2 separate regions of the Homo sapiens genome follow, and region 2 is linked to region 1. Evidence: fine-mapped expression QTL. A gene starts in region 1. The other region holds a variant in brackets. All regions are shown on one strand. Distances are between the middles of the regions.

The links. PIP is the estimated chance that this variant, and not a neighbour inherited with it, causes the effect.
Region 2: its variant is the best candidate, but not a certain one, in a credible set for the expression of RANBP3 in whole blood (TOPMed, PIP 0.52).

What each region holds. Positions count from the first base shown.
Region 1 is chr19:5,971,248-5,987,258 of GRCh38, forward strand. It overlaps RANBP3 (RAN binding protein 3), which reads right to left and starts at 6,893. Exons shown (of 17, transcript NM_007322.3): 1 at 6,814-6,893. The coding sequence starts at 6,835. RANBP3-DT (RANBP3 divergent transcript) reads left to right here and starts at 7,156. Exons shown (of 4, transcript NR_046376.1): 1 at 7,156-7,267. RefSeq lists silencers at 6,677-6,786, 7,017-7,186, 7,237-7,286.
Region 2 is chr19:5,927,389-5,943,399 of GRCh38, forward strand. It overlaps RANBP3 (RAN binding protein 3), which reads right to left. Exons shown (of 17, transcript NM_007322.3): 4 at 14,411-14,447; 5 at 14,233-14,319; 6 at 6,026-6,091; 7 at 5,064-5,156; 8 at 4,016-4,143; 9 at 580-699. Among named protein-coding and RNA genes, the nearest start is that of CAPS, 21 kb to the left of the region's middle. RefSeq lists an enhancer at 484-573 and a silencer at 12,386-12,566. The variant G/A (reference allele first, on the strand shown) is at 8,713.

The sequences.
Region 1 (16,011 bases):
TTAAAAAAATCTGAGAAGAGTGGCATTATTTTACATTTTGACAAATGTCTTTAACGTCTGACTTAATAGAAGATAGCTGAATTCTCTCTCTTTTTTTTTTATTAAAGAGAGGGGCTTTGTTGCCCAGGCTGGCTTTGAACTCCTGGGCTCAAGAGATCCTCCCACCTCAGCCTCCCAAGTAGCTGGGACTGCAGGTGTTTGCCACTGTGCCCGGCCTGAATTCTCTTATCTGCTTCTATAGTTCATCTGTTGGCATATCACACATCCAATAACCTCTGGAAAAAAACTCCACTGTCCATTTTCAAGTGAATAAGAGTGAAAAAAGAGCAGATAGTGTCTTTGTGTTGTTATGAAATAGTTTTGAACTTGCAGTCCCCTTGAAAAGGTCTTGGGGACTGCAGGGCCCCGGACCATCTTTGAGAACTGCTGCCATATGCTATCTGAGTTCTAGCATTCCAAGGACACTAAATCCTAAATTACAGACCATGAGGTGCTTTATGCTAAGGTTCTAGCTAAAGAGCACTCTAAGTGTAGAGAATGCAGAGTCTAGGAGTCTGTATAATAGGATTGAAACCCAAATACCAACCAAGGTCACAGGCACTGGAAGAGAAGGAAGTGGGCTAGGCCCCAAGTAACATGGCGGAGACCACAATATCCAATCTAATCTATCCACAGGCGCAGCTGTTCCTTAGCACTGAAAAATCACTGCTGTGCAAGAATGCAGGCCAAGGGTGGTTGCTGTTTTCTGAGAGAAATCAGAAATACAATTTTTTTCCCCTCTGAAATCTCAGAATTTTAAGTGTTGGCTCCTAATTACAAACAAAAACCTAAATGGGCCAAATTAAATATGTCTGCTTGCCCTTCAGGCAAGTTTGCAACTTCTGCCTGTGGTTTTCAACTCTGGCTTCATGTTGTTAAACATCTGTGGAGCTCTTTAAAACCACAGACACCCTAGAACTCCTGGAACCATCTCCAATGGTGCAGCCCAGGCAGCAGTTTTGATTTTCCCTGACAACCTCCTTAAACAAGTGTGAAGCCCATCCAGGGCTGAGATCCATAGCTAGTGCTGTGTGGCAGCTCTAAGTGCCAAGACTACTGAGGAGGAAGCAAACTGTGGACATGTGGAAGGTGGTGGTGAGGAGCTTTACCCTGATGTCCCAGGCCACGTTATTCTCTACTGCGTAGGGCAGAGTCAAACAGAACACCGCTCCACCAGGACCCCCTAAAACAAAGAAAACATCACCACCAGACCCTGAATAGATAATGATGCAAGCCCAACTGCCTCACGATTGCTTCAAAGTACCATGGAGAGCTACCAAATGCCCAGCCAAGCCAATACCAGCCATCTCGGCAGTTTTGTGGTCCTCTGGTAAGTTTTGAGGAACGGCGCTCTCTTCTCAGATTCCCCAAATGCATCTCAACTTTCCCCAAATGGCCTTCGTCTCCCACTACACCCAGGCCTATTCACTGTCTGAACTCACGTAGGAGGGCAGAATTCAACCCCCCTTCTCCACCCCAAGCTCCTCCAAATGCCACTCGAAGCTCACCCCATTCCTGCTGCTTCTGCTCACTCTGACCACCTCAGAGGAGGAGCACACACCAGACCCAGGTTGACCCTAACACCTAATGAATGCACGAGGGTGCCGGGAAAATCCCATTTTCTGGTAAACGGAGAGGCAGGCTGAAGGCTTGTTTGAAACATTTTGCAGAAGCCCAGTGAGGGCTTTTCTGTCTATACGCAGGATCCTGGGCAAAATGGAAAGTCTCTTCAAAGAGTATAAAGATTTTGCAGCCTGGATACCCCTTGGGTACCATCAGGCCCCTTCTGCTACAGATACAGGAGGCACAGTGGAGGTGAAAGCACACATTCTGCTCTAAGCAAAAATCCCAGAATTAGTTTTTATAATAAATTCACGAGAAACTTTCCAAAAGTTGTTTAAGATAGGTTCCAACTATTTCAGTTCTAGCTAACCAATAAAAATTCAGTTGCATCTCACCCTCTCAGGGGCTAGGTTTTAAGTCAACAAGGTGCAAGCTGAGAGAAGCCAAACCACCCTCAAAAATCTCTCGACTCATACCTGGTCAGGCTTTTAAATCAGTAGTTCTCAACTGAAAGCAACTCTGCCCCCGGGGGGACACTGGGACGGAGACATTTCCACTGTCATGACTGGCGGGGATGAGGAGGGGGATGTGCTATTAGCATTTAGTGGGGTAGAGGCCAGGGATCCTCATTAAGATCCTACAGTGCACAGCGCAATCGCCCACAACAGAGAATTACCTGGCCCCAGATGTCTGTAGTGCTCAGGCTGGGATCCCTGAGATCACTAAGTGACAGGCAGGACAGAACTTAGGAGGACCCAGAGCCCAGGCCCTGCTGGTCTTCTGCCAGGGGCTCAGCCCAGGGCCAACTCTGAGTGGGGCAGGTTCACCCACACAATGGAGACTTTGCTGAACCCTTCAGCTGAATGTGTCCAGAGCAGAGTGCACTGTAGTAAAAACAGTGACCTGAGTGTTTATTACTATGAGCAGAGACTGGTGCTAAACAATGTATGTGCACTCATTCCTTCAATGCTCACAGCAACCACGAGGTGGGTGTGGTTACCATTATTCCCATTTTATTGGTGTGGAAACGGGGGGCTCAAAGAGGTTAAGAAATTTGCCCCAAATGACTCAGAGTGGACAGCGGAGTTAAAACACAAACCCAGCTCTCTGAGGACCAAAGCCTGTGTCCCCACCATCGATACCAGTGAGTCTCTCACCTGGGGGCGATTCTGCAGCCTCCCCACCCCCACTCCCCAGGGGCTGTGTCAGGAGACTTCTTCTGTTGTCATGACGACCCCGCGAGTGAGGGGAGGTGTGTGCTACTGGCATCTAGTGAGTAGGTCCAAGGATGCTACCGTGCTGCTAAGGATCCTGCAACGCACAGGACAGCCCCTCCCGCCAAAGAGAGCCATCAAAACGTCAACTGCACCACACAAAGGTGAGAGCCCTGCTTCACACTGTCTCCCGGGTTTCCACCACGCATGTCCACAGGCCAACAGGGCCTTTCATGTCAGGATCTAGAATCCAAGATTCCCTGGAGTTCAAATGTGCTTTGCTCACCCTCTTTCCAGTCTTCTTTACCTTTGCCAGGGACAAAACTCTGCCTTCAAATCCTGATGTCAGCCTACAATGCAGCATAACCCTAGAGACAGGATGAGTAATGAGTCTGGGAGGTATCAATGGGGAAATGCCAAGCAGGGGAGACTTATCCCTGGATGCAAGGGTGAAACATGCACACACACTGTCTGAGAGGAAAAGCACTCAGGTGGACTTTAAAAGTCCCAGACCACAGGAAGGGCTGTGAGAGTTGCTGTCACCATCCATGAGGCGTTCACCATGGTGACGAGGGCCAACAAGATGCTTTACACAACAGAAAACATTTCCTCGTATACAAGCAGAGGACACCTACCCTCTACTACTCAAACCAGCGGGTCTCAACCCTGCCTGCACATGAGAATCACCTGTGCTGCCACCTGTACAGAGGCCCAGAACCCACCCAACACCAGAGAGAATCGGAATCTGCAGGGCGTGGCGACTGAGCATCTGCGGTTTCAGGAAAGTTCCCCAGGGGGTACTGATGCCCAGCCGGGTGGACAGCCGCTGCTCAGCCTGACACAGAGGTGGGACTGGCCCAGAGAAGAGAGATGGCAAATGGATGGAGGAGGGACTGGGTGTGAGGGTGGAGCAACTTATGATCTCAGTCTGGAAAGGCAGAAGCCAAGAGGGCATTTGACTAGAGCTTAAACAGCAAGAACAAACACGTGACCATGGGGCAGCCCCTAAAGCTTCAAAAGGCACAGGCAAGGAGGCCCCACTTTACACAGTGAATAACAAATTAAACATCCTGGCAGGCTGTACAAGCCAAAACCAGAAATGGAGTGTTCAAGAAACACACAATGACTGATTGAAGGACGGCAGGGATATATGAGGCACAAAGTCCACCAAGATTTGATTTCCTGAGGACAGTTATCCCAGAACTAGCGTCAGGGACAACGTGCTAGGTGAGTGTGGCACTTACTAGGGAAAAAAAGTGAAGTTCAAAACATTCCATTTCTCTCTTTGGCCCTTACCAGTTCAACTATCCCATTTACAACCAATAGCTCATGTGGACAGCATATGCTAGAAACAGTATCCCCTGGAAAAGGGCAAGCCATAATTTCCCCTTTGTGCTCAAATGTATTCCTCACAACAGGGTCCTCACTGGTGAATTCATTCATTCATGCATTCATTCATTCAACCAATATTTCCTGTGTACCTACTCTGTGCCAGGCACCGTTCTAGATGCAAGGGGGCAATCAGTGATCATAACATAAAAATCCCTGACCTCATGGAGCTTACATGGGGCAAACATGCATGTAATATCTAGCATGCCGGATTGTTAAGAGCTATACAGGAAAATCAAGCAGGGTGAACGGAATAGAGAACATGGATTTAATTTGAAATAGGTGGCCAGAGAAGCTCTCATTAATAAAGTAACATATATGAGTAAAAACCAGAAGAAGTGAGCCATGGGGGTATCTGGGGGAAAACTGTTTCAGTTAGAGGAATCAGCAGGAGAAAAGGCTAAAAGCGGGGAGTGTATGCAACATTCAAGGAAAACTGAAAAAGCCAGAGTAGTTAGCACAGAGCAAGGCAGCAGAGAGTGGCGAGAGAGAAGGACAGGGACATATTGGGGCCCACTATGGGCTGAGAAGTTCTCAGATGGGTAAGGGTGGAGGGAACGGGGGCTAAGCATTGACGGTGTTGGTGGGGAGAAGTGGTGGTCCCCCTTTGGGAATAATTTTAAGGTAGAAATGATAGTATTTGCTGTGCAGTATGAGAAAGAGGGAAACCAGGGGTGACTTCAAGGTTTGGGGCCAGAAGAATTCAAAGAATGGACCTGCCTAACTAACTACAATGGGTGAAAGACCATGGGATGGGCAGGTGTAGTGGGGGAGATAAGGATTTTGTTTTGGAAACGCTCTAGACTTACCTATGACACATCCAAATGGAGATGTCGAAATGTGATGCTGGACATGAGTCCTGAGTTCAAGAAGCTATGTGGGCTCAGGATGTAAATACATAAAATATGTCATACTGATTCCCACTTACCCAGTCCCTCTGTAACTAGATCTCATGAGTTGGAATGCTGCAACCCTCCATGGGCTCCTTTATCTTAAAAAAAGAGATGTAGCAGCCGGGTGCGGTGGCTCACGCCTGTAATCCCAGCACTTTGGGAGGCCGAGGCGGGCAGATCACGAGGTCAGGAGATGGAGACCATCCTGGCCAACATGGTGAAACCCCGTCTGTACTAAAAACACAAAAATTAGCTGGGTGTGGTGGTGCGCGCCTGTAATCCCAGCTACTCGGGAGGCTGAGGCAGGAGAATCACCTGAACCCGGGAGGCGGAGATTGCAGTGAGCCGAGATGGCGCCACTGCACTCCAGCCTGGCTACAGAGCTAGACTCCGTCCCAAAAAATAAAATAGAATAAAATGGCCAAGAATCAGGGAGAGAACCTGTGCTGCTGCCTGTACAGATGCCCAGCGCCCGCCCAACACCACACAGAATCAGAATCTGCAGGGACTGAGCACCCGTGGTCTGGCATCTGAAGCCAGGCCATCTTGGTTCACATCCCTGCTCCTTCCCAGCTGTGTGACACGCCTTGGATAAGCGACTTAACCACGTTGACTCAGTCTCCTCATCAAGTGAATGGGGCTAACAGTATCTATACCTCCTACCAGGGAAAACAGTATGTCAAGACTTTGCACCACACCTGGTAACTACCCTAAATGCTCCACAAGACCAAGCACTTCCTATCATCATTCATTCATTACTGCAATTCGGTAGGGAAAACCCTCCAGTCACAGGGAGCACCGAATGGGGGAATCAGAGCCAGACAGGTAGAGAGCTTGCCTGCATTTGTGCAACTAGAAAAGGGGGGGAGCTAAAAATAGGCCTCAGAAGTCTTGAAGCTACAGCGATGGCAACACGACTATGGATGGAAGCAGACATCAGCCTTATGGTGCCTTCTCGGGGGATCTGGAAGTGTAACCTTGTCAAAAACACTCAGGTGGGCTGTCAGCGCTCCACAGAGGAGGGACTCGCACGGTCTCTTGTCTGGAAGTGCAGCAAAAAGGGCCAAAGAGCAGCCAGGGTTTTCGGCGGCCCAGATCCTGCGGCGGGGCCTAAATGAGGGGGAGACGAAGCGCCCCGAAGGATCCGGGGGGAACTGGCGGGAAGTGGGGGCCGAAGTTCGGGGCGGGGACGGGGTGAAAACGGCCTGGGCTTCCTCCGTCCGCGGTGTGCGGCTGGCCCGCGGAGGACGAGGGCCTCACGGGCTTAGGAGATAGGCAGCCAGGCCGGGGAAGGGGAGATGCCGGGTGGCGGAGGACGAGGGGGCGGGGAGGGAGCGTGGCGCGCTCCGGGCCACAACCAGGCCCTAAGGTCTATTTACATCCGTGGCCGAAGCACTGGGGCCGCGCCTCCCGCCCCCTTCAGCCCCGAGCTTGGCTGCGACGCAGAGGGGCCTTAGGGCTGCGATCCCGATGGCCACCCGGCTCCTCTAGCCAGACGGCTGCAGTGGCTGGGGTTGCCGGGAGTGATGGGCCGGGCCGGTGAGCCCGGCCTGAGGGGACGCAATAGGGGGCGGCTGCAAGGCCCGCCACGGCGCTAGCCTGGAGCGGACGAAACCCTTGCACTCTGCGGTGCTCCCCCCAAGGGCTTGTGGCCCCTAGTCCTCCCGCCGCCCGTTCCCCGGCCGCCAGCCGGTCCCCAACGGCGCCTCCCCTACCTTCGTTCGCCAGGTCCGCCATTTTACTTCCTTAAGCCCTCCCACAAGGCCCCGCGCCGGCCCAGGCTCGCCTGCTTTCTGCCAGAAACTCCCGCGCGTGCGCACTTAACAAGCCGACTCCGTGTGAGGCGGCCAGCTCGCGCCTGCGCGCTGAATGCCGCGCGGAGGCGAGCCCCGGATCGCCTGCCCTGCAGAGCAGCCTGCCCTGACGAGCCGCGCTCCTAGCACGCACCTGCGCACGAGCCATCTCCCGCCTCCTTTTCCCGCCGACTGAGAGGGCGGGGAAAGGGCCGGGAAGGGCGCATGCGCAGTGGCAGCGACTAAGGTTTAGTGAGGCGGCACCGCGCGGCCCGAGGCGGGTCTTGAAGCACTCGTTTTCCCACTCGTTTTCCGGGGTTCCCCCGCGGTGGGACAGTGAGCAGTTCAGGGCGCCGCAGCCGAGGCCTTCCTCCAGGTAAATCGCCGGGCCTGCGGGGGCTTCCCACACGCGCGGGCGGGAGACGCGTTGCCTCCTACCTCAGTTTACCCGCCTTAGGAGCCGGTACCTTCGGCAAACGCTTTCCTGAAACCACGGGGGAAGTGGCGAGAGGGCGCGGGGTGCTTGGGATTGGGGGGTAAATCAGAGCTCATCGGCGGGGGCGGGGGTCGTGGTCAGGCTCTAGGAGGGGGCGCAGCCCTGGGACCCAGGTGCTGGCGTTGGGGGCGGGGGGAGCCGGCGCGAGGGACTCGACCCCTCGGAGCTACGAGAATCAACTTCACAAGCTCATGGGAGGGGAACCGCGCGCCTCCAGGTTACCCATCTGTAAAATGGGACCATCAGCCTCACTCACAAGGCTCATGGGAGGGTCCTGGACACCCTGGAGTTGTTCTCTACTCACCTGCTATGAATCTCTCAGCAAATCCTTCGGACTTGGCCTTGCCTCCAAAATACAGCCCAGAGCCACCCATTGTCACCCCCAGGCTGTCACCACCCTAGGCCACATCGTCCGTATCTATCTCATGGAAGACTTGGACAGCGGCCTCTCTGCTATCCTTTGCTGCATTCTTTTGAAGCCCCAGGCTTGGTTCTGCACATGGCCGCAGGCTGAGGAGTCTTTGAAAAATATAATCAGCCAGACGCGGTAGCTCACCCCTGGAATCCCAGCACTGCGGGAGGCCAAGGTGGGAGGATCGCTTGAGCTCAGTTCAAAACCAGCCTAGGCAACAGAGCAAGACCCCATCTCTACAAAAACACAAAAATTACCCGGATGTGGTGGTGCAAGCCTGTGGTCCCAGCTACTTGGGAGGCTGAGGCAGGAGGATCACTTGAGCCCAGGAGGTTGAGGCTGCAGTGAGCTGTGACAGTGCCACTGCCACCATCCTAGGGACACAGCAAGAACCTCCCCCATATATATACACATATATACTTTGTTTTTATCTATATATATACACACAGATATATACATACACGTGTGCATATATATGTGTGTGTGTGTATATATATATATATACACATAGACTGAAAATGGAAATATCAAGGCCACTCAGTGCTTCCAGAGGGCTCTCAGCTGAACTTGGAATATCCTAAACCTTGTATTCAGGTTTATGAAGTCCCCTGAACTTGGCTCCCATGCCCTGCTTTGTTCCCCCTTGCTCATTGCTGTTCAGCCGCGTGGGTCTTTCCATCCTTGGAGCACAAGCTCATTCCAACCTAAGGGTCTTTGCACTTGGTCGTCTCTCTGCCTGGGACCTTGTGTTTCAGGTCTTACCTAGGTTGGAGTCCCAGCTCTGCACCTTTTTGAGTATGATCTAAAAGAGAGCGAGGAGTACTACAATCTGTGGGCCAGATATAGTCTATGAGCTAAAAATGGTTCCTCCCTCCCTCCCCTTGTTCCCTCCCTCCCTTTCCTTCCCTTCCCTTTCTTTTATTTATTTTGGAATCTAACTCTGTTGCCCACGCTGGAGTGCAGTGGTACAATTTCGACTCACTACAACCTCCGCCTCCCGGGTTGAAGTGATTCTCCTGCCTCAGCCTTCTGAGTAGCTGGCATTACAGCTGTGTACTACTATACCCAGCTAGTTTTTGTGTTTTTTTGTGGAGACAGGGTTTCACCATGTTGGCCAGGCTGCTCTCGAACTTCTGACCTCAGGTGCTCTGCCCACCTTGGCTTCCCAAAGTGCTGGGATTACAGGCATGAGCCACCGCGCCTGCCGATTTTTTTACATTTTTAGCTGGTTGGGAAAAAAAATACCAAAAGAAGAATATCTATTGATGTGAAAATGGTGTGAAATTTACATTTCAGTGTCTGTAAATAAAGTTTTATTTGAAAACAGCCAATGCTTACTCATTTATATATTGTCTCTGGCTACTTTTGAGCTGTGACATTAGAGCTAATTTTTTTTTTTAACAGAAACTTTTTGGCCAACAAAACTTAAAGCATTTACTGTTTGTGTCTTTACAGAAAAAGTTTGCCAGTTCCTAATCCAGGACACATGTATTTACATGGTTGTTAAACTTTTCTGAACAGCCAGTGGGATGTGGTAAATATTTAACAGCAGCTTCTCTGGAAGAGAATGTATTCGTTAGTATGTATTTATGTGTGTGTATATAGTTTATTGTAAATTTTACTTATTTTTCTATCACTTTCTTAAGACCACAAGACAATTAATAAAACAAATTGAACCCTGTTTTGTAGCGTCTGCTGATTTTCTGGGTGTGAATCCTTCAGCCATGGCCTATATTGTTACTAATGGGATGTCACTAGCACCAGAGTTGGGAGGACATGCGCAGTAGTAGCACACCAGATTCTTTTTTTTTTTTTTTTTTTTCTTTTGAGGCAGAGTCTCGCTTTGTTGCCCAGGCTGGAGTGCAGTGGCGCGATCTCAGCTCACTGCAACCTCTGCCTCCCGGGTTCAAGCGATTCTCCTGCCTTAGCGTCCCCAGTAGCTGGGATTACAGGCGCTCACCACCATGCCTGGCTAATCTTTGTATTTTCAGTAGAGACTGGGTTTCACCATGTTGGCCAGGCTGGTTTCGAACTCCTGACCTCAAGTGATCCACCCACCTCGACCTCCCAAAGTGTTGGGATTACAGGTGTGAGCCACTGTGCCCGGCCACACACCAGATTTTTTTCAAGAACCTGACTTTCAGCCGGGCGCGGTGGCTCACGCCTGTAATCCCAGCACTTTGTGAGGCTGAGGCAGGTGGATCACGAGATCAGGAGTTCAAAATCAGCCTGGCCAGCACAGTGAAGCCCCGTCTCTACTAAAAATACAAAAAATTAGCCGGGTGTGGTGGCAGGCGCCTGCAATCCAGCTACTCGGGAGGCTGAGGCAGGAGAATCACTCGAACCCGAGAGGTGGAGGTTTCAGCGAGCTGAGATCGCACCACTGCACTCCAGCCTGGGCAACAGATGAGACTCTGTCTCAACAACAACAACAACAACAAAAACCTGCTACTTTCTCAGTGTGTCCCCACACCAGCAGCATCAGCATGACCTGGAAGCTTATTAGAAATACACAATCTGGGCTGGGTGCGGTAGCTCACGCCTGTAATCCCAGGACTTTGGGAGGCCAAGGCGGGTGAATACTTGAGGTCAGGAGTTCAAGACCAGCCTGACCAACATGGTGAAACCCCGTCTGTACTAAAAAAATAAGAAATTAGCCAGGTGTGGTGGTACACGTCTGTAATCCCAGCTACTTGGGAGACTGAGGCAGGAGAATTGCTTGAACCCAGGAGGCGGAGGTTGCAGTGAGCCAAGATCACACCATTGCACTCCAGCCTGGGCGACAGAGTGAGACTGTCTCAAAAAAAAAAAAAAAAAAAATACACAATATGGCCAGGCGTGGTGGCTTACACCTGTAATCCCATCACTTTGGGAGGCTGAAGTGGGCAGATTGCTTGAGCCCAGGAGTTCAAGACCAGTCTGGGCAACATGGTGAGATCCTGTCTCTGCAAAAAATTAGCTAGTTGTGGTGGTGTTCACGTGTAGTCCCCAGCTACTCAGGAGGATGAAGTGGGAGGATGGCTTGAGCCCAGGCGTTGCAGGCTGCAGTGAGGTAGGATGGCACGACTGCACTCCAGGCTGGGCTACGGATTGTGACCTTGTCTCTAAAGAAAACGGTTAATTTGAAACTTCACACCTGTAATCCCAGCACTTCGGGAGGCTGAGGCAGGCAGATCACATGAGCCCAGGAGTTCAAGACCAGCCTGAGTGGGCAACATGGCAAAACCCTGTCTCTGCCAAAAATAGAAAAAATTAGCCAGGCGTGGTGGCACACACCTGTAGTCCCAGCTACTCAGGAGGCTGAGGTGGGAGGATTGCTTGAGTGCGGGAGACGGTGGCTGGAGTGAGCTGAGATCACGCCGCTGCATTCCAGCCTGGGCAACAGAGTGAGACTGCGTCTCGAAAAAAACCAAAGAAAGAAATTCTCTAAGAGTAGCTCGAATGTCAGTCCCCCTGGTCACCCACAGTGTGTAGAATTCAGGTCATCTGTCATTCCTGGGGTGTTGGTTTCATTATTTTCAGGTTTCCCCAAACTTCTCTTGGGTAGGTCTTCTCAGCCTTTACCATATCTGCACGGTGTGACCTTTCATGAACTTGATACTTTTCTTTTTTTTTTTTTTTTTTTTTTTGAGACGGAGTCTCGCTCTGTCGCCCAGGCTGGAGTGCAGTGGCGGGATCTCGGCTCACTGCAAGCTCCGCCTCCCGGGTTCACGCCATTCTCCTGCCTCAGCCTCCCAAGTAGCTGGGACTACAGGCGCCCGCCACTACGCCCGGCTAATTTTTTGTATTTTTAGTAGAGACAGGGTTTCACCGTTTTAGCCGGGATGGTCTCGATCTCCTGACCTCGTGATCCGCCCGCCTCGGCCTCCCAAAGTGCTGGGATTACAGGCATGAGCCACCGCGCCCGGCCGATACTTTTCTTTTGGTTTAAATTTACATTAAACAGATACTTCGTATCACCGTTTAAAATGGAAAACCACTAAGCCATGAGTAGACCATTGTAAAAGCAAACATGAAAATGAAACAATGTTTTCACATTCAAAGTAGATACTGTCGCCTGCCAAGGTGTTGGGCCTGCTTTTTCTTTGATACAAAGGGAGATTAGCAAAGTATTAGAGCGTTATTGAAGAGGCTTCAGCACTTGGCGGAAACTTCCTTCCTGATGTGATGAGAAGGAGTGAAAGAGAATTGAAAACGGGCTAACATAATCTATGTTATTCATTGTCGTTTAACGCCATGTCTACATGTCGCCTAAAGTCATGTCACACACCACATTCATCCCACACTTTGGGAAACTCGCAGCACCATGTCATCACTTGCTAAATAGAATCCAGTCGTGGCTTTTCAGGGGACACTGAGACACGCAAAACCTGTCAGGCTGATGAGCCAAGGACGTTTCCAGTGGTTTCGCAAGCCTCCTCCAAGTGTTGATGGCTGCCAGCTTTCCTCATCTGGCCTCTCGTAGCAAATTAACTTAGTCAACATTCACTTACACAAATATTTGTCAGTTGCCTACTGTGGTAGCTTTAAAATATGGCCCCAAATTCGTTGACCCTTTTCCCAGCAAGAGAGGAGGGTGCAGCTCCCTTCCCTTGAATGTAGGTGGGCTTGCTGATCAATAGAGCACACAGGAAATGACACCGTGTAACTGACGACGCTAGGACATAACGGACAGAGATGCAGCTTCTGCAGCATTGCTGGAACAGTCTCTCTGAAAGCTTTTGGCCACCATGTGAGCAGTCCAACTGCCCTGCGGCTGCCATGCTGTAAGGAAGCTGAAACACAGATCTCATGGCAAGGCCCTGGCCAAGAGATGCCCAGCCAAACCCCAACAGCTCCTGCGGCAGCCGCTGACTGTAATTGCATGAGAGACCCTGAGCCCCGTCAGAACCACCCAGCCTAGCCCTTCCCATTCCTCACCCACAGAAACTACGAAAGATAAAGAATTGCCATTATCAGCCACTAAGCTTTAGGGATGTTCATTACACAGTAGTATGTATCCACCACACCTATGAGGCATCAGGCACATGTTGGATTCCCGGGATGAACTAGACAGGCCCTGACTTCACGGAGATTTGCAGCCTTTTGTGGGGAGACTAACAGTAGACAGGTAAGCAAAATAATTTGAGATAGTGATGGGTGCTACAAAGAAAATAAAACAGCATGCTATGACACAGTGACAGAAAGAGGGAATACTTTTTGTTTGCTTGTTTGTTTTGAGATGGAGTCTCACTGTGTCTCCCAAGCTGGAGTGCAGTGGCAGGATCTCGGCTCGCTGCAACCTCTGCCTCCCGGGTTCAAGCGATTCTCCTGCCTCAGCCTCCCGAGTAGCTGGGATTACAGGCGCCTACCACCATGCCCAGCTAATGTTTGTATTTTTAGTAGAGACGGGGTTTCACCATGTTGGCCAGGCTGGTCTCAAACTCCTGACCTCAAGTGATCCTCCTGCCTCAGCCTCCCAAAGTGCTGGGATTACAGGCGTGAGCCACCACGCCCAGCTGAGGGAATAATTTCACATGGTAAGGAGCTCGGTGTGGCTAGAGCCGAGTGACCAAAAAGAGAGGTGGTGGAGATGAGCTCAGGGAGGGAGCGTGCAGGGCCTTGGAGGCTGCAGTGAGGAGTTAGGGTTTTCTCCTAATTGCAGGGGTTGGAGGCAGGAAATGGGAGGGCTTCAAATGACTTGCCCTTAACTGCTGATTGGCCTCTGTGCTGTCAGCTTCCTCCTTGGCTCACCAGGATACAGGTCTCTGAGGAGCCTCTGAACCCAGGCTGAGCTCTGAAGACTTATGTCCCTCTCTCCTCTGCAGCCAAAGAGGACGATGGCTTCTGCAGCTGGGCTTCAGGAAAAGGGGTCTTCACAGCTGCAATTAAGTTTTCATCTTCCCATCATGGGCAGGGAGCCAGCATGTGTTTTTATGGAGCAAAAGGAGCTTTGCTGTCTGACGCGCTAGGAGCCAATGCTAGGACATGGGTTTGTGAGAAAAGCTTTTTATTGCAAGTTGACTAACAAGCAGATGGGAGTCCAACTCAAAGCTGTCTCCCCGTGCTAGCTTTAAGACCATACTTTTTGCGTGTGTGGAGATGGGGTCTGGCTATGTTGCCCAGGCTGGTCTCAAACTCTTGGCATCGAGCAATCCTCTTCCCTCTGCCTCCCAAAGGGCTGGGATTGTAGGCCTGAGACACCACGCCCACCCTAAGGCAGTCAATACCTTTATTAGAAGAGGTGTAGGGGGTAGACTGTGGCATTAGTAGGTAGGTGACTGGTAGAAAGGAATAGGAAGTCTGGAAAGTCCTCTGGCATGCGCAGTTATCTCTTCATCCCTCATGGAGCGCATGTGCAAGTTCGGGGGGCATTAGTCTAAACCATGCGGTAGAAATTGAGGCTATGACATCAGCAAGCTCGTTCTGTGCAAACTCCAGTCCGCCATATTGTTCCAACTGACTTCAGCCAGTTTTGTTATCTTACAAGCAGAGGGAGTTTCAGTAAGTTGTTTCTTTTCTTATCCAGCAAACTCAGGAATTTCTATTAGTCATAGGTTTCTTTAACTCCTGGGGCAGTGCTTCAGTGCCTGCTCTGTGCCCAGCCCACACTGAGGTTGAGTACCCAGAGATCAATCAAGTATAATTCCTGCCCTTAAGGAGCTTGGAGCCAGGTGGGGTTGGAGGGACTTCATCATGAATGCGTTATTAGTTCATCTGCCTTCCCCGTTCTCCCTCAACCCACGGCCTCAAGTTCCTGACAACAGGATGTCGGATGTGACCAATGGTGGCCCCTTGCCCATGATGGCAGGAACCCCTGACCCAAACTAGGCACATCAGCCAGGGATTTGGGACTGGAATTGCTTCTCTCTGGAAGAAAGCTGGGCTGGATCCTGTTAACATGGGGTAGGGCCACATTCTCCTTCACATGACCTGATCTGCAACCAGGTCAGCCGTGCTGAGAGGTGGAGAGCCCAGAGTGCCACAGCCGGGTTCCCAAGCCTTCACTTTGCTCGGTGACACATTCCTATCTCCTGATCAACTCTGCTTTTTCTCCTCCTCCTCCTCCTCCTCCTCCTCCTTCTTTTGTTGAGATGGAGTCTCCCTCTGTCACCCAGGCTGGAGTGCAGTGGCATAATCTCTGCTCACTGCAACCTCCACCTCCCGGGTTCAAGCAATTCTCCTGCCTCAGTATCCCGAGTAGCTGGGATTACAGGTGCCCGCCACCACGCCCGGCTAATTTTTGTATTTTTAGTAGAGACTGGGTTTCACTATGTTGGTCACGCTGGTCTTGAACTCCTGACCTAAAGTGATCTGCCCACCTTGGCCAGGCTGGTCTCGAACTCCTGACCTCAAGTGATCTGCCCGCCCAAAGTGCTGGGATTACAGGCATGAGTCGCGGCACCCAGCCTCTTTATTTTAAATTAAATAAATTAAATTTTACAATAAATACATTTGAAATAAATTCAGACTTAAAAAAAGTTGCAAAAATAGTACAAAGAGTTCCATATAGCCTCCATCAGCTTCCTCAGATATTCACATCCTGATCAAAATCAGGACATTCGCACTGATACAGTACTATTCACTAATGTGCAAGCCTTATTCACATTTCCTCTGTTCAGCTCTAGTGTCCCTTTTCTGTTCCAGGATTTAGTCCTGGATCCTGTCTTGCATGTAGGTATTTCTCCTTAGTTTCCTTTAGTCTGGATCATTTCCTCCATTTTTTATATACCTTTTCTTGACAACGACATTTCTAACGAGTACTGCCCAATCATTTGGTAGAATGCCCCTTAACTTTGGGTTTGTTTGATGTTTCCTCACAGTGAAACTCAGGTTAAGTGTTTTTGGCAGGGATTACGCAGAAGCGATGTGTGTCTGTGTCAATGCATCCTAGCAAGGGCACATGATGGCGATTTATACCTTTTTTTTTTTTTTTTTTTTTTTGAGACAGAGTCTCTCACTGTTGCCCAGGCTGGAGTGCAATGGTGCAATCTTGGCTCACTGCAACCTCTGCCTACCAGGTTCAAGCGATTCTCATGCATCAGCCTCCTGAGTAGCTGGGACTACAGGTGCGCACCACCACGCCAGGCCAATTTTTGTATTATTAGTAGAGATGGAGTTTCACCATGTTGGCCAGGCTGGTCTTGAACTTGTGACCTCAAGTGATCTGCCTGCCTTGGCCTCCCAAAGTGTTGAGATTACAGACGTGAGCCACCGCGCCCGTCCAATCGCT
Region 2 (16,011 bases), 44 kb before region 1:
TAAGGTGACAGTTCTTAATGGGGGCGATTCTACTCCACAGGGAATACTGGCCACGTCTGGGGACATTTGTGGTTGTCAGATGTCAGGAGCATTGGGTGGGTGGAGGCCAGTGATGCTGCTCAGCACCCTGCAGTGCCCAGGGCGACTCCTCAGAAACTAAGAATGGTCCAGCCGTAATGCTGCTAGTGCTGAAACAGAGAAACCCTGAAATACGGGAACAGAAACCTCTGGGCAGAGCTGAGAACACTGGACCGTGCTGTCTTTCTTCTCTGCTATGAAAGCCTGAGGCCTCAGGTTCAGTCACCTTCCCTGTCCCCGCTACCATGAGAACCAGGGACCCTGACTTGAGAAGTCACTGCAGGTGAGGGCTCCGAAGCCTGGGCTGCTGGTGGGGAAGTGCCAGGGCCCAGCACACGCACACCAGCAGCAGACTGTGCCGTGAGCCATGGGGCTGCCTCGCTAACACCTTCTTTGTCCCACGCTCCCCTCCCCTGTTAAAAGGAAAATCTACCTACTTGCCTGCTGTTGAACCTGGGGAAGGCATAAAAAGTCAATGTGCTGGTTCAACAGCTCACATACCTTAACTCTGTCCCTCAAGTTCTGCCCAAATACAAAGGCTTGCTGTGTGGCGGGGTCTTTTTTCTCACAGGCTTCCTCTTCAGAGGCATTGCTGGACTCATTTTTCTGGGGCTCTTTCTCCTATCAAAAACCAAAACAAAACAGAGTAATCAAAACCAGTGCCACACTTGGCCCAGACGGATGCCCAGCAATCCCACACCAGATCATGTACTCCACACGTCTCCTCTGCATGTGCCTGCACTCCCAGCTACTCAGAAGGCTGAGACAGGAGGACTGCTTGAGCCTGGGAGTTGTAGTGAGCTGAGATCACACCACTGCACTCCAGCCTGGGTGACAGAGCAAAAACCTGTCTCCAAACAACAAGAAACACCTGTGCCCTGCAGAAGCCTTAGTGCCGGCAGAGGACAGGAAATAACCTGGTTGCTCATCATTGGCCAAGGAATGAAATAATTTACAATAGAAAATATGGGGGAAAAAAAGTACAGCACAGCTATTACCACCGAGAGGGAGGTAGGCCTCTGACATGCCCACAATACATGGATCAGAGAAGAGAGCAGCTTGTGGGACACGGAAGTGCGATTCCATTTCTGTTAAAGCCAATCCAGTCCCGTGTGTGTGGTGTGTGTGTGTGTGTATGTGTGGTGTGTATGTGTGTTGAGGAATGCCCAGGAAAATAAGTCGGGAGAGAGAATTCAAACTACTGACGGAGGTTACCCGGGAACCTCTTAGCTGGAGGGTGGCTCCTGCTTGTTACTTTCTAGGATTTCCATTTTGTGTAAATATTTTCAACATGTAGGCATGACTTTTTTGTAACTAAATATCCTAAGACCAAATGCATTTATCTTGAGATAATGGAATATGGAGTTGCTAGTAATTTGTATATGTCTTTCCTATACCACATGATGAAAAAGGTGTTGTAGAATTTGAAAAGAAATTTTAAAAGGCTTTTGGCAGATCTTTGGAGTCTCTGGCGATGTGTACAGTGGACATGAACGTGAGGCAGGGAGTGTTTTCCTGGGAGATGTCGTGAAGGGACCTGACAACCGTGAACTCGGAGGTGAGAAAGGCTGCAGGCAGCTTCTGACTGGCTCAGCGTGTCCAGCGGGCAGGGAAGCCTGGAGTTACAATGCCAGGCCCAGAATCAGCGGATCACAGCGCTGAGGGCACTTTCTGGTCCAACTGTGAAGGAAGTGAAAAGTGTAAATGTTTCTCTACTGTGCTCCCTAGAAATTCTGCTACTGCTGACTTCACGCTGCATCCTTGTGCCTGTGCAAGAGTGAACGTGGCTTTTTAAAATTAAACACACAACGTGTTTGGCGACCTGGAAGTCCTCAGAGGATGGGCTAATCCCCAGCCCCACTGGGGCCGCCTGCATCCCGTCCAGCAGAAACACTCCCTGGCTCTTGGCTTTCTGCGCTGTGTGCCCCCTGCTCACACCGACTGGTGCTAATCCCGGGTGGGTGGAGCCCACAGAGTCACCTGAGATGGGGCAGGCAAACAGCAAAATGTTTCTGACTACAGGGTATGTCTATGACCTGGCGGAGCCTGCTTAGAGGATTCGCTTAAACTGATAAACGAATCCCGAGGCCTGTAACCAGTCTGAGACTCTGTGTGTGTGTGGGGCGGGAGGGGAAGCCTCTTCCCCACTTTCCCAAAGACGGTACCAGGAGTTCCCCCATGGGTCGCCCCCAACATCTAAGCCCTCCTTAGAGGAGATGCCTCATAGCTCACGTTCCCGATGAGCAGTGTGTGCCATGTTCATGGGCGGCTTGGAAAAGCTCGGACTCCTGCTGTAGGGCCAGAGAAGGATACACACAGCGAGCCTGGCGAATCTCAACAGTACTGGGTGTGGTCAGAGGGCAGCGTGGGTGTGGCCGCATGGCTCCACCCCAGACCCACATGGAGCAGTGGCTTTGGAGCCAGACGCAGGAGCTGGGAATGGCAGCCAGCACATCACAACTTCTGAGCTCAACCATTTGGGAACAAGCTGTGTGCACTGCTGAGAAGGGGCTGGAACCGGCAGGAAGACGGACTCCGTCCCCTGGGATGGGACACAGCAAGGCCTCTCCAGTGAGGAACAAGCTCTCGGTAGCGGGTGCTACCAGGTCAGCCTGTGCACTCACCATCGGGGACAATCAGAGACACTGGGAGATGGCGGGACGGGCTGGGTCACTTCTAAGTCCTTCTCCAACTCAGAACTGCACACCTGATCTGCTCAGGAGACCTCAGCAGTCAAAGCTTCCAAGCCGCAGAATGCGGTGGAAATGATCCCTATTTCCAATTCAGCAAACTCGTTTGAAAAAGGGCGTGAGGATGTTTTCAAATTTAATTGTGGACAGCCATTTTCACCCTTTGAGCCAGAACATCTACTGGGGATGGAGGGTATAAAACTGCAGGCCATGGACACAGAGCGGAAAATAAACACAAAGATCCAATCTGGCTTTTACACAGAAGATACCACATGGTGTTACCCTAATTCTGACTTCAAACCCATCTCTGCCAACTTCAAAGGAGGCTCTTCATCAAAGGCCCTTATTTCACAGTGGCTGTGAAACACAAAGCTTTTGGCCCATATAATCCAAACCATACCCCCGCTTAAATGGAACTATTTCTTTTTTTAAGGCAGGGTCTGGCTCTGTCGTCCAGGCTGGAATGCAGTGGTGTGACCTCGGCTCACAGCAGCCTCCCCTTCCCGGGCTCAAGCAATCCTCCAGCCTCAGCATCCTGAGTAGCTGGGACTACAGGTACATGCTACCATGCCTGGCTAATCTGTGTATTTTTTGTAGAGACAGAGTCTTGCTATGTTGCCCAGGGTGGTTTTGAACTCCTGGCCTCAAGCAATCCACCTGCCGCGGCCTCCCAAAGTGCTGAGATTGCAGGTGTGAGCTACCGTGTCCGGCCTAAACAAACTATTTCTGAGATGACTCCCAAAGAAAAATTTTCAACTGGAACCACACAGATAGGAGTCTCTGAGGGGTGGTTTGGGTGTGGACACAGAGAGGGGAGACATTCCTCATGTTAAACATTGCAAGACACCCATCAGTGACAGCCGTTCCTCGGGCCCTAGTGACTCCTCAGAGTGCAGTGGTTCAGGTCCTCCCTCAAGGATCACTCCCGTGAGACATGTGGCGGTCAGCCTTGGGTAACAGGCCCTTCCGGCAGAACTCTGGGCAACAGGTCCTTCCGGCAGAGCTTGCTTGGGAGACACTCTTCTTCTGCCTGACCAGCAAGACCACCCTTGGGAATCTAGATCTGGTTTGTCAGGTACTGTTATTTAGAGCCTACTGAGCAAATCCAGAGAGCCTTACAATAGGCCCACGTGGAAACTGCTTGGAACAGGTGACAGCGTGTGGACTCCACAGCATGCTGGGAAGGCTGCCCTCCCGCTCCCAAGGGGCCTAGCATGCAGCGCTTCCCTGCCTCAGGACCCACTGACCTCAAGTGCACACACCTCATCGGCAGCTTCGGAAGGACTTCTCCATGCAGCAGTGTCAGGGGATGCTGCGGGCACTGCCCCCGTGCAGTCTGCTGGGAGGCTGACCCCGTTGGTGCCACTGCTGGGGACTGTGGGAGGGAAGGAGAGTGGGGAATCACAGGTGCTTGGCGGCCCTCCCACCCCCACTCACATAGCTGAGGGGCTGGGCCACGTCTAGTCTAGGGCCCCTCCCATGGTAAAGCCCACAGCACATGTCTCCTTTTTAAGGAAGGACCTGGTATCTCTACAAAGAGCCAAAATTCTTGGATTTAAAAAAAAACAAGAGAAACAAACAAAAAAGAGAAACCTGCCGGGCACAGTGGCTCATGTCTGTGGTCCCAGTGCTTTGGGAGGCTGAAGCGGGGAGAATGCTTGGGGCCAGGAGTTTGAGACCAGCCTGGGCAACACAGCAAGTCCTCGTTTCTAAAATAAGATAAAACAAACTGGCTGGGTGTGGTGGTGCACACTTGTGGTCCCAGCTACTTGGGAGGCTGAGGTGGGAGGATCGCTTGAGCCCAGGAGTTCGAGGCTGCAGTGAGCTATGATTGCACCAGTGCACTCCAGTCTGGGTGACAGAGCAAGACCCCATCTCCAAAATAAATAAATAAATAAATAAATAAAATGACCTTTCAAGTTTTTAAAGATAACCTGTGAAAATTGAGGCTGAAATTCTATCTGCAAACACACAGGGATAAATCTCATTCCCAGGAGCCGGCCTGCTTTTATGAAGACAGTGAATGAACAAAGCAGGTTTCACCCACACAGTCACACTCAGCCGAGAGCTGTGAGGAAGCTGTGGAGCCGCCTCTCCCTTCTCCGTTGCCAGGGCTCAGGAGGCTTGGGGCTGGAGACGGCTGGGGGGTGATTTAAAGGATCATCTTCCCTGATCTCTCTGTATTTCTGGTGCATTCAGCAGTCACCTCTGTCGCAACACTGCTGTCCCGGGTGCGACTTCGGGAACGCTCTACCCTGCCGTCTGGGCCTGGGCGCCAGGGCTGCTGTTTCTTACCAGTCTGGGACAGCGCCTTTGGCTGCGGAGCTTGTAACACTGCCGGGCGAAGCACGCTCCGCTGCTGCTCCTTGGGCTTCTGGCTTGGCAGACCTAGGAACAGAAGGCGGCCTTCCCAGTGCCCGTGGACCCCTGCCTGCCCCCAGGCGCTTCAGAGACTGACCCCTGGCATCCCATTTCATGCCCCTTGCAGGCTAGACTTTGCAGGGAAGCACTTTTTTAAAAACTTGAGGTCTTTTTTTAACAGCTGGCCAGGAGATCTGGCTACTGTTATTTTTACATGTGATTACATGAAACTCCCAGTGACCGACGCCTGTGAATTAATCCAGTTAGCACAGTAACGTGGCGGGGCGCCGGCAGACTCAACAGTCAAGTGGAGACTGTGGGAGGAGAGCAGTGCATTCACAGGCAGCTACCTGGAGGCTCAGGACTCGGTGTGGGGTCACGTACAGGCACATTTTGCACCTGTTTTTCAAAACAGCCATGCTGAGGAAGTCCCTCTGCCAAAGGCAGATGGGACAAGGACCCTTGCATGTGCCCTGCCCTGTGCAGCATCCCCGGCAGCCTCACTAGCAGCCGGCTCACTAGCAGCGCGCCGCTGGAATGCAGCCACCCTGCTAACTGGGGCGAACACTGTGGTATGTGGGGGCCAGAACATGAAGGACAGACAGGCTGAACCAAGTGCGCTACTGCTGGGCATGGAGCCCGCCCGATGCACCCCGCCTAGCCTGCTCCCGTGCCACCACTGCCCACTTTTCTGAACACACGACGCTCACAGTCAGGGGTCCCAACCTCCCTGCTCAGACAGCCTCTCTTTAAAGGAACTTTCCAGGGCTCGTGGGTCAAGTTACAAGTGATCTTTCTAGAAAGCAGGCTGAGCCCGCGGTGCCCTGGTGTGGCCTAGCAGAGGTCTGAAAAACGTCAGAGAGCCACCCCCCGCCCCAGGGAGGTAGACGACCTACCTGCGCTGGGGGCTTGGCCGTGGATCAGCGTTGGTGGCTTCAACCGGAAGCCACTGCTCCTTTCCTCTAAAAGCACAAGACAAAATATCAACAGCAGGCCTGCCTGGGCTGGGGCTGGGCCTGGGGGGCAAGGGCAGGAGAGGACTATGGTCTTGGCCTCAGTGACTTCGGGCCTGGAGAACCAGGGAGAACATTTCCAAATTACAACAGAAGTCTCGTCCGATCAGCAGGCCTGGAAGGCGCCTGGAGGAGGGGAGAGACAAGGGCAGGAGGAACGATGGCTCTTGGGCCAGCTGCTGACCATGGGGGCAGGTGGGGCGTCAGCCGCCCTCCCAGCTGTCTATGACCTGCTGCAGGCTCAGGAGCCGAGCTGCTCAGCGGCCCTGTACCTGGCTCTGGAGAATGTCAGGGAGCCACGGAACACAGGCGCTCAGGCCCCACTTCCCTTTCCTAGAAGGCTTGTCTGTCAGAGGATGCGGCTGTGGCCAGGAAGAACCTTGGCACCACTACAGATGTCTGGGAAGTGAGACAGGTTTTTGTGATGAAAAGGTCAAAGGTGGCACACAGTGAGCCTGCCTCCCCTTTCCAGATGTGCCTGCGGAGCTTCCCGTCTCAGTGAGGGGGCACTCCTGGCCACCGTGGAGGAGGCCAGCTCCCCCTGGGCCAGAGTCCGGGCTGACAAATTCACAAAACTAGAGGGAAAGGTGAATGCCCACGAGCTCCTGGGATGGCTCGAGAGCCCAGCCTCGCCCAGCCACCTGTCCACATGGACCCCTTCATCTGTGTGTCTTGGCAACTGTGCCCATACAGGGAGTGGGGATGGTGGTCTAATCTGATCCACAACAGGAAGGATTGTCATAAAAGGCCTGTGACTCAGGCAGGCAAGCCTGTTCCTGGGCAAGGCACAGAGACTGTGGCATTATGGCTCCTGGAGGTAGCCCTGCGTTTGTGCTAAGCTTCACCCCCTTGTCAAGCTACAGGACACAAGATCAATATACAAAAATCGATTGTGTTTCTAACACTAGCAGTGAATGACCCAAAAGCAAAATTAAGAAAATAATTCCATTTACAATAACACCAAAAGGAATAAAATACTTGGGAATACATTTCACAAGATAAAACTATAAAACAATGTTAGGGCCGGGTGCAGTGGCTCATGCCTGTAATCCCAGTGCTTTGGGAGGCTGAGGCAGGAGGACTGCATGAGCCCAAGAGTTTGAGATCAGCCTGGGCAACACTGCAAGACCCTAACTCTACAAAAAATTAAAAACTTAGCCAGGCATGGTGGTACATGCCTGTAGTCCCAGCTACTCAGGAGGCAGAGGTGGGAAGATCACTTGAGCCTGGGAGCTTGAGGTTACAGTTGAGTTACGACTGTACCACTGCACTCCAGCCTGGGCGACAGAGTGAGACCTTGTCTCAAACAAAACAAAAACATTGTTGGAAGAAATTAAAGGTGTAAATCAAAAGAAAAACACCCCCTCATGCTGTCTGATTGCATTTCTGTGAAATGCCAGACTAAGCAGAAAGGAGCTGAGCGGTTACCAGGGCTCAAGGGAGGGGGTTGGGGGCAGGCTGTGACTAACAGGGATGAGGTTTCTTTTTGGGATGATGGAAATGTTCTAAAATTAATCACGTGATGGTCGCACAACTCTGTGGATGTACTAAAACCACTCAATTGTACACTAAAACGATGACAACAAAACCCAAAACACCTTGTCAGCCCAAATTTTCAGACTCCAAATCAAGATTCAGCAGGCCAAGGAAGACCCCTCTCCCGCTGTGCCCCGGAGGCGCCGCTGTGCCTGGGCAGCAAGAGGATTGCAGCAACCCTTCTTACTATAATAGTTGTATGAGGGAGTCCAGCCCCAGGGGCTTCTGGCAGCCTGTGTTAGCAGAGCTGGTGCCTCTCCCGTAACAGACTGGTCATAAAAAAACAAACTCAGGAGAGCCAGATCCTGCAGGATGCGGGGGTGAGCCGCCAGATGTTCCTTTTCCGAAGGAAACACTCAATTACATTTCCAAAGCACGGAGCTATGCAGAAGACGACTGGCAATTTAGATACATTTTTAAAAGGTCAAATTCACAATTTAGATAGTTTTTAGCAAGCTCTTCAAGCTGGCTCTCCACGCTGATGTTTTGGTCACAGACTGACTACTGCCCTTCCACACTCCGCTCCGTGCAGCGCTGGCGCTAACGCTGAGGGGAGCCTGGGGGCTGGCCCGAGCTGCCAAGCGGAAGCAGGAGACTTGGATAATCCCTGCCACCGACCTGCCACTAGTGCTAGGCCCAGAGCGTGGCCCTCTCCAGAGCTGCAGACAGACAAGGCGTGCTCCAGGGGTAGCCAAAATCTGGAGGTCCCTGTCACAGGCCCTGCTCCACGAAAACAAGGGTGGTCTCTTCTCATTCCTTCCAGAAATTTTCTTCTGCAACACAGGTCGCAACACAAGCTGCTGAATCATGGCCAGAGCCCGACGCCTGCCACATACCCAAAGGGTGTGGGCCTGTAGAGGATGCTGCACCAGTCTCTGAGGGATGCGCATCACTCCAGAGAGGAAGAGGACCCCTCCCGCCGGCAGCCTTTGCCCTCCTGGGAAGCTGGCAGGCTCCCTGTCTGAGGGTGCTTTTCGCCTGCCTCAGAGAGCCCCAAGTGATGTCTGTGGGAAGCCATGCTTGCCCCCCAGGGA[G/A]CCCCGATTTAACCAGGGAAGGGATGGGAATGAGACTGTGTGCATCAAATGCTGAGAAGGCAGCCTGGCTGGAGCTGGGGTCTGTGCGTGGACGGCGCTGGTGCAGGGTGGGGAGGAGGCTCAGCCATGCGGTGGGCAGGGAGTGATGCCTGATGCACAGAGGACAGAGGGTGCCGGTTTCTTAGTGCCAGAAGAGGGAGGAATATACCAAGGGAGGCACCCACGTGCCCCTGGCGTCATCTCCACATGCAGGCAGGCAGGCAGAAAGTAAGAGATCATGTGGACAAAGGTGTGTCCCCAGCTCTGTCCGTCATCTCCACATGCAGGCAGGCAGGCAGGCAGAGAGTAAGAGATCATGTGGACAAAGGTGTGTCCCCAGCTCTGTCCGCGGAGGGCCGGGAGCAGGGCTACACCTGAGTCAGTGAGATCGCAGTACCGCACGGAGTGATTTCAGACCTTGGTTTCTAAAGACCATGTTCCCTGAAGAACCAGCGTGCCTCTGAGAAATGCAGATTCCAGGACTGGGATGAGAAAAGAGGCTGAGCCGGGAGGCTCTTGTTGTGACAAAGTAAGGGCAGTGCTCAAATGAACAACGGGGACCTGCCTGACAGGGCTTCCACTGGCCAAATCTGGGACAACCTGAACATTAAATAAAAACCAGTAACCATAGACGGTCACCCACTGATGCCAACAGAAGCTCGCCTGTCTATGTTGACACAATCGATCAAGGAACAAGCACGTGGGGAGAAGGGCAAGCTCCTCCTTCCAGTGAACACCACTAATCAACGCGGCAGGGATGGTGCTCAGAGTATCCCACGGGTGGTGAGTGCCTGTAATCCCAGCTACTTGAGAGGCTGAGGCTTGAGAATCTCTTGAGCTCAGGAGGCAGAGGGTGCAGTGAGCCAAGATTGTGCCACTGCACTCCAGCCTGGGCAACAGAGCAAGACTCTGTCTCCAAAAAAAAAAAAAAAAAAAAAAAAAAAAGGAAGAAAATCCCATGGGGCAGTCGTCAGCGGGAAACATCACTCTAAAGACATCACTGGGCGCGAACACTGGAGGGCAGGAGTGTGATGAGGTACACACAGTCCCAGAGTCTAAAGTGTCTCTCAGAAACCATCCAGCACAAAGGGGAAAGTAGCTTTACAGTGGTGAAACCTGGCAGACAGCACCCTGATCGAGGAGCACGGCCACCCCGTGCTGGTAAGGGGACAAGTGAGTACTGTGCATGGCTTCTGTGACATTCTCATCCAAGATGCCACACCTGGGTCTCACCACCAGGACATACTGGACAGGCCCCAACTGAGACACTTCTACCCAACAGCTGACCTGTAATCCTCAAGGTCATGAAAGTCAAGGGAAGCCTGAAGACCTGTTCCCGATAAAAGTGGAGGTATGTGTGGTAGGACCAGGGTCTCAGTCCTTTTTTCTAATGGACTCATGGAGCTGACTGGAGAAAGCTAAATGGGGTCTTCAGACAAAAGGGACAGAGAAATTCTTCTGTAAGTGTTAAAGCTTTTCAAAATTAAAGCTAAAAAACAGAAGGCAGGCAGACAAGGATGTGAAGTTGGGTTTGCAGAACTGATGTGTGGCTGATATGACTGCCTTTTCATGCGTGAGGGCACTGGGGCTTTAAACCATGCCGCGTCGGGGCCTGCGAAACAGCTGCCCTGCTCGAGGCTGGAGGGGAAAGGTCTGTGGGGAGAGAGACAGGAGGGAGGCCGTTGCTCACAGACCTCAGAAGCGATCATGAGATTTGTAACAGAGCTCAGCAGCACAAATGGGTCCAGACACACGGCTTTAGTAACTGATCACCTAAAGCAGAACCTGCCTCACCGTGGCAGGCTCTGTGCCCCCATCCAGACCACCACCTGCTAAGCGACACCCCAGGAATAACCAACATCGTGCCCTTCCTGAGGACCCTGAAACACCAAGCCCCTCTGCAGGATGAGACCAGGTGGTCGGCTCAAAACAGTTTGCTTTTAGAGTCAAAATGCCTTGTTGAAACGGGGCCATCAACTCAATGCTGAGAGTTATAAGAACCCACCTCTTCCCTTGACACGGACATCACGCCAGCAGCTAACTTATCTCACAATGCTTTTGAAGTCGGCAATGAATTTATATATGGTAGGTTGGGTTACAGAATTCAGGTTGTTAAACTCGCTTGTTAAATCTTTTATGAGGAATTTCAGCCACGTGGGAGAAACTTTCAGGAAACCTTGGAGTTGGTTCTCCAGTGAAAGACCAAAAAGGCAGGCTCCATATTCTTCAGAAAGGGGGAGCGGCTTTCCTTAAAATTTTAAAGCTGGGGGCCAGACGTGGTGGCTCACGCCTGTAATCCTAGCACTTTGGGAGGCTGAGGCGGGAAGCTCGCTTGAGGTCAGGAGTTCGAGACCAGCCTGGCCAACACGGTGAAACCCTCGTCTCTACTAAAAATACAAAACATTAGCTGGGCATGGTGGCACATGCCTGTAATCCCAGCTACTTGGGAGGCTGAGGCAGGAGAATTGCTTGAACCCAGGAGGCAGAGGTTGCAGTGAGCCAAGATCGCCCCATTGCACTCCAGCCTGGGGGACAAGAGTGAAACTCCGTCTCCAAAACACACAAAAAGTTTTGAAGCTGTGATTAAACATATTTATCTAGGTAGGTCTGAGCAAAATTAATGTGAGAATGCACAAAAAAGAGGTCTAGAAATTCACCAACTTCACAGGCGTTACCTTTGGGATGGCAGGGTGAGTGGGGAAGGGGCAGGGATTCTTTTTAGTTGAAATATTTCTGATTTACTTTAAAGAAAAAACAATTATGGGCCAGGTGCGGTGGCTCATGCCTGTAATTCCAGTACTTTGGGAGGCCGAGACAGGTGCATCACCTGAGGTCAGGAGTTGGAGACCAGCCTGGCCAACAGGTGAAACCCTGTCTCTACTAAAAAAATACAAAATTACCCCGGCATTGTGGTGTGCGCCTGTAATCCCAGCTACTCGGGAAGCTGAGGCAGCAGAATCACTTGAACCCGGGAGGCGGAGGTTGCAGTGAGTTGAGATCACACCACTGCACTCCAGCCTGGGCAAAAAGAGTGAAAGTCTGTCTAAAAAACCAAAAAACCCCAATTATGAATGCATTACTTGTATAAAATTTTGAAAAATGAGTGATACATTTCTTCACAGGTTGTTTTTAGAGGACTTAGAGCTCCATGCAACCAGGCCCTGCTTGCAGAAACAAACATGAGGGCTTATGAAGCCTCATCTCACGCCAGATCCCCAGACTATGAGCTGAAGAGTTGGGGGAAAAATTTTAACAGCTGAAGAAGAACTGACTTTAAATGCCCGCTGAAGATCTGATTTTCCCACACCAATTGCTTTTCCTCCCAGGAGAACCCCCAGGCCGGGCGGGAAGGCAGAGGGGCCGGGGCTCACTTGGCTCTGAGTCGGAATTGCCTGCAGATGGCTCGCAGAAGCTTGATGGCATAAAAACATTGTTTTTTGAAACTGTTGACAAGGAGGTGCAGGCGGGGGAGGGAACAAGAGGAAAAACAGCATGAATGGGTGGGGTGGACGCTCAGAGATCACCTCTCCCACCTGAGGGGTGGATTCTCACGTCCCACGGGAGGAGACGGAACAGCACGCAAACAGGGCATTCAGTCTTTCCCGAGAACAGCAAACCCCAAGACTCTTTACAGCACTACGAGGGTCTCCAGCCCGACGGCCTTGATCTGTCTGATGACTACAGTCAACTCTGGTCAACTGGGGGCACCCCCTTGTCCCTGCACCTCTGCAGGGGCAGCCGGCAGGGGAGATATCAGATGCTCCAGGCCACATTGGAGGCCCTGACTCCTCCTCACCTGTCAAGGCTTGTCCATGGGGTTCCCCCTCCCCCACCTAAGATCTTCCTTCACCAGGGCAACTGCTTCCCAGGGTGTGGGCCAGCCAACAGGTTTCCACAAATGAAGTGGAATTCGTAGGGGAAGAACTCACTCTACGCAGAATGGAACCAAAGACAACACTGTTCAAATTATTGGTGCCCCTCACGCCTCCAGTTACCCTGGAGAGCTGAGTGTCTCTTGGGGGCTGCTGCGCTGGACGGGAGGTGATTTGAAGAGGGCCGGGGAGAAGAATGGTGGTCCCTCGCCTCTTTAGCCTACATTCACAGCCCAAACACCTCCTCTTCTCTATGCTGGTTTTCGATACAGCAAGCATGGTTCAGCAGTGGGCAGTGAGGGGGAAGGAATAAAATCAACGAGCAGGAAGTGGAGCTCCCTCATTCCACAGAACACCTATCCACAGGTGCAAAGATCCTTAAATTAAAAGGATGCCAACTGCAGCCTGGACTGCAAGCCATCTGGACAGTTCCGCAATATCCAGTCAGCAGATGACAGTGTAATAGCACTGGAAAACCTAATGCAGCTGTGCAAAAAGACGCGGCCATGTCCAAAACCAACGTGATGGGAAAAGGGCATGAAAACAAGGGTGTGGAGGGGTGACTTGGGAAGGACCCTGGCTTCCTACGCTGTGTGTTCCTGTAACGCATGCGTGACTTCTGTAAGCAGAAACAACTTGACATCCTGAAGGTTCAGGACTGTAAAATGATTTACATGAACTTTCCAGGAATGGATTTCAGTTGGGTAACCAGAGAACCTGTCTAAACACTCATGTATGTCCAAGTTGGCACTACAGACAGCTAAGACAGAGGCCACGAGACAATGCCAGAGTGGGAAGTCAAGACGGGGACGAGAGAATAGCCCTGCAGTGGCATTTACCCTCAAATCTGCAGAGTTGTGCCCATGGCAGGAGGCCGGGCTTTCTGAGTGTTATATTAAGTAGTGCTGACGGCATTATCTGCCTCAGGAACCTCTCTCCTGTACCAGCCTGCATGAGTCCCCAGGCCGACCTCCAGGCCTGTGCTCAGACCAGGCCTCACGTCCAGGGCCTTCAAGCCCTTTAGCCTGCCCTGCTCCACAGTCCGAGCCTGGCCCACCCTTCCAGGCCCCCGCAAGCTCCTCTCCTCTGGGAGTTCACAGCATCACACACGGGCCTCTGCTGGGGCCTCCTGGCTTGCTGGTTACCGTGTGTGTGTGCATGCTTGTGTGTACATGCGTGTGTGTGTCTGGGCTACTGCACTGGACTGCCCGTGCTGGGCATGCAGCTGAGGGGTTGGGAGAACACCCCACCCCTAAACCCCCAGTCTGTGTCCAGCCTTGGAAAGAGGAGATGTAATTAACAGGCAGAGGCCCCAACAGGGCTCTCAGTAGTCAACCCCTTTCCTCCATTTCAGAGGGACGATCTCTTCACAGTCTTCCTCAGGCCACCAAGTCTCACCATGCCGTCAGTGTCACTGATTCGAGACGAGGACCCCTGATGCTGCACTCTGGACAAGCTCTCACCTCACTCCTGACAGAGCCCGAGCCTCAGATCGACTCTAACCGGAGCTGGGCAGGAAGGACACAGCAGACGGATGCGCGGCACTGAGGGGAATGGCGGGTTTGTAAGCATAAACGCTTTCACCATTCCGTAAGTTTGCATATTTTACCTGACTGTGAGGGTGGGAACTGGGTTAAAGAGGATGTTCTTTCTCGCTTGACAGGAGGGCAGTAATTTCCATCTTCTCTGTCAGAATCTACAGAAAATGATGAGAAGAGGAGGAGAAAAATCAGGTTGCTTCTGTCTTTAAAACTGAAGATGGTCAAAGGTGTTAGAGAGCTCCTTACCTTCTCCGCCTTCAGGACTGGAGCCGCCAGCTGACCTCTGAAACAAGGAGCACACAGCCGGGGTCAGAGGGCATCAGGCTCACGGCAGCCGAGCAACTCTCGGGGCCGTAACAAATATCCCAACATGCACCACGGGCAGCTAGTTCCCAGAGCCCAGCACCCGAATGAGAGCCAGGATTTTAGCCTAAAGCTCAAACATCCCCCCGATGAACCTCTGCACCCAGCTTCACAAACACATGCCAAGGAATCCTCTCAGTGGCTGGGAAAGCATCCGCAGCACCCAGATCAGTTTCTTGTTTCTCCACAGGTTACGCTAACTGGCCTGCCACCCCTAAACTCAAACACAGCCGAACCTCATCTGGCCCCCGTTCATTCTGCCAAGAGCTGAAAAGCGACCCTCTCCACCCTTGAGGGCAGCGGACTTGTGTAAAATGGTCACATCACACCGGATAGGAGCGATTTCCCTTCCTTGCCCTGGAACATTCTACCATGCACATGCTTGTCTCAGGGTCGGCTGTTATTCCCAGAGCAAGCAAGAGCTTGGATGTTTTGGACCAAAGCCCACTTGCGAAGTGTTTAGAACAGAACCATCAAAGACAAAGCCCAGTCACAGGCTGAGGGAAGGCTCCTGAAGAATTCCCTATTCCACAAACTTTAGCTTTAGAGTGTGAACAACCAGCAACCAAGACTTAAAATGGGCTCATGACCAGCCTGACCAACATGGTGAAACCCTGTCTCCACTAAAAATACAAAAAAAAGTAGCTGGGCGTGGTGGTGCACGCCTGTAATCTCAGCTACAGGCTGAGGCACAAGAATCGCTTGAGCCCGGTAGGCGGAGCTTGCAGTGAGCCGAGATCACACCACTGCACTCCAGCCTGGGCGACACAGCGAGACTCTGTCTCAAAAAAAAAAAAAAAAAAAACAAAAGGACTTAAAATGGACTGGGTGCAGTGGCTCATGCCTGTAATCCCAGCACTTTGGGAAGCTGAGGCAGAAGGATCGCTTGAGCCCAGGAGTTTGAGACCAGCCTGGGAAACATGGTGAGACTCTGTCTTTATAAAAAACCCAACCACATAAAAATCAGCTGGGCAGGGGGGTGAATGCCTGTAGCCCCAGCTCCCAGGGAGGCTGAGGCAGGAGGATCACCTGAGCCCGGGGTCTGAGGCTGCAGTGAGCTATGACCATGCCACTGCACCCCAGCCTGAAGGACACATCTCATCTCAAAACACAAACAAACTCAAAACTTAACATGAGGAGTGTTTATCCTCTCCCCCAACACAATCCCTCATTTATGTCCTGTCTCAGAATTTAGCAGCCCAAAGCGCACCGATGAGTGAGGGCCGCTCCTCCTGGCGCGCTCCCTGCAAGAGCAAGCAGAAAAGCCAATTTTCTTATTTTCTAAAATGCTCCTCAGAGGTCAAGTTTAGCCAAATGAGGCCCGCCTGCCTCGACGAGCTGCTGGGGCTTAGGGGAGGTGATGCATGTGAAAGTGCTTTGCAAACTGCAGAGTGGCCTGGGAAAGCAAACTGCAATAAATAAAACTGAGGAGCACAGGAGCCAAGGCAGACCCCCCTCAAGTCAGGGCGATGCATTTTCCCATA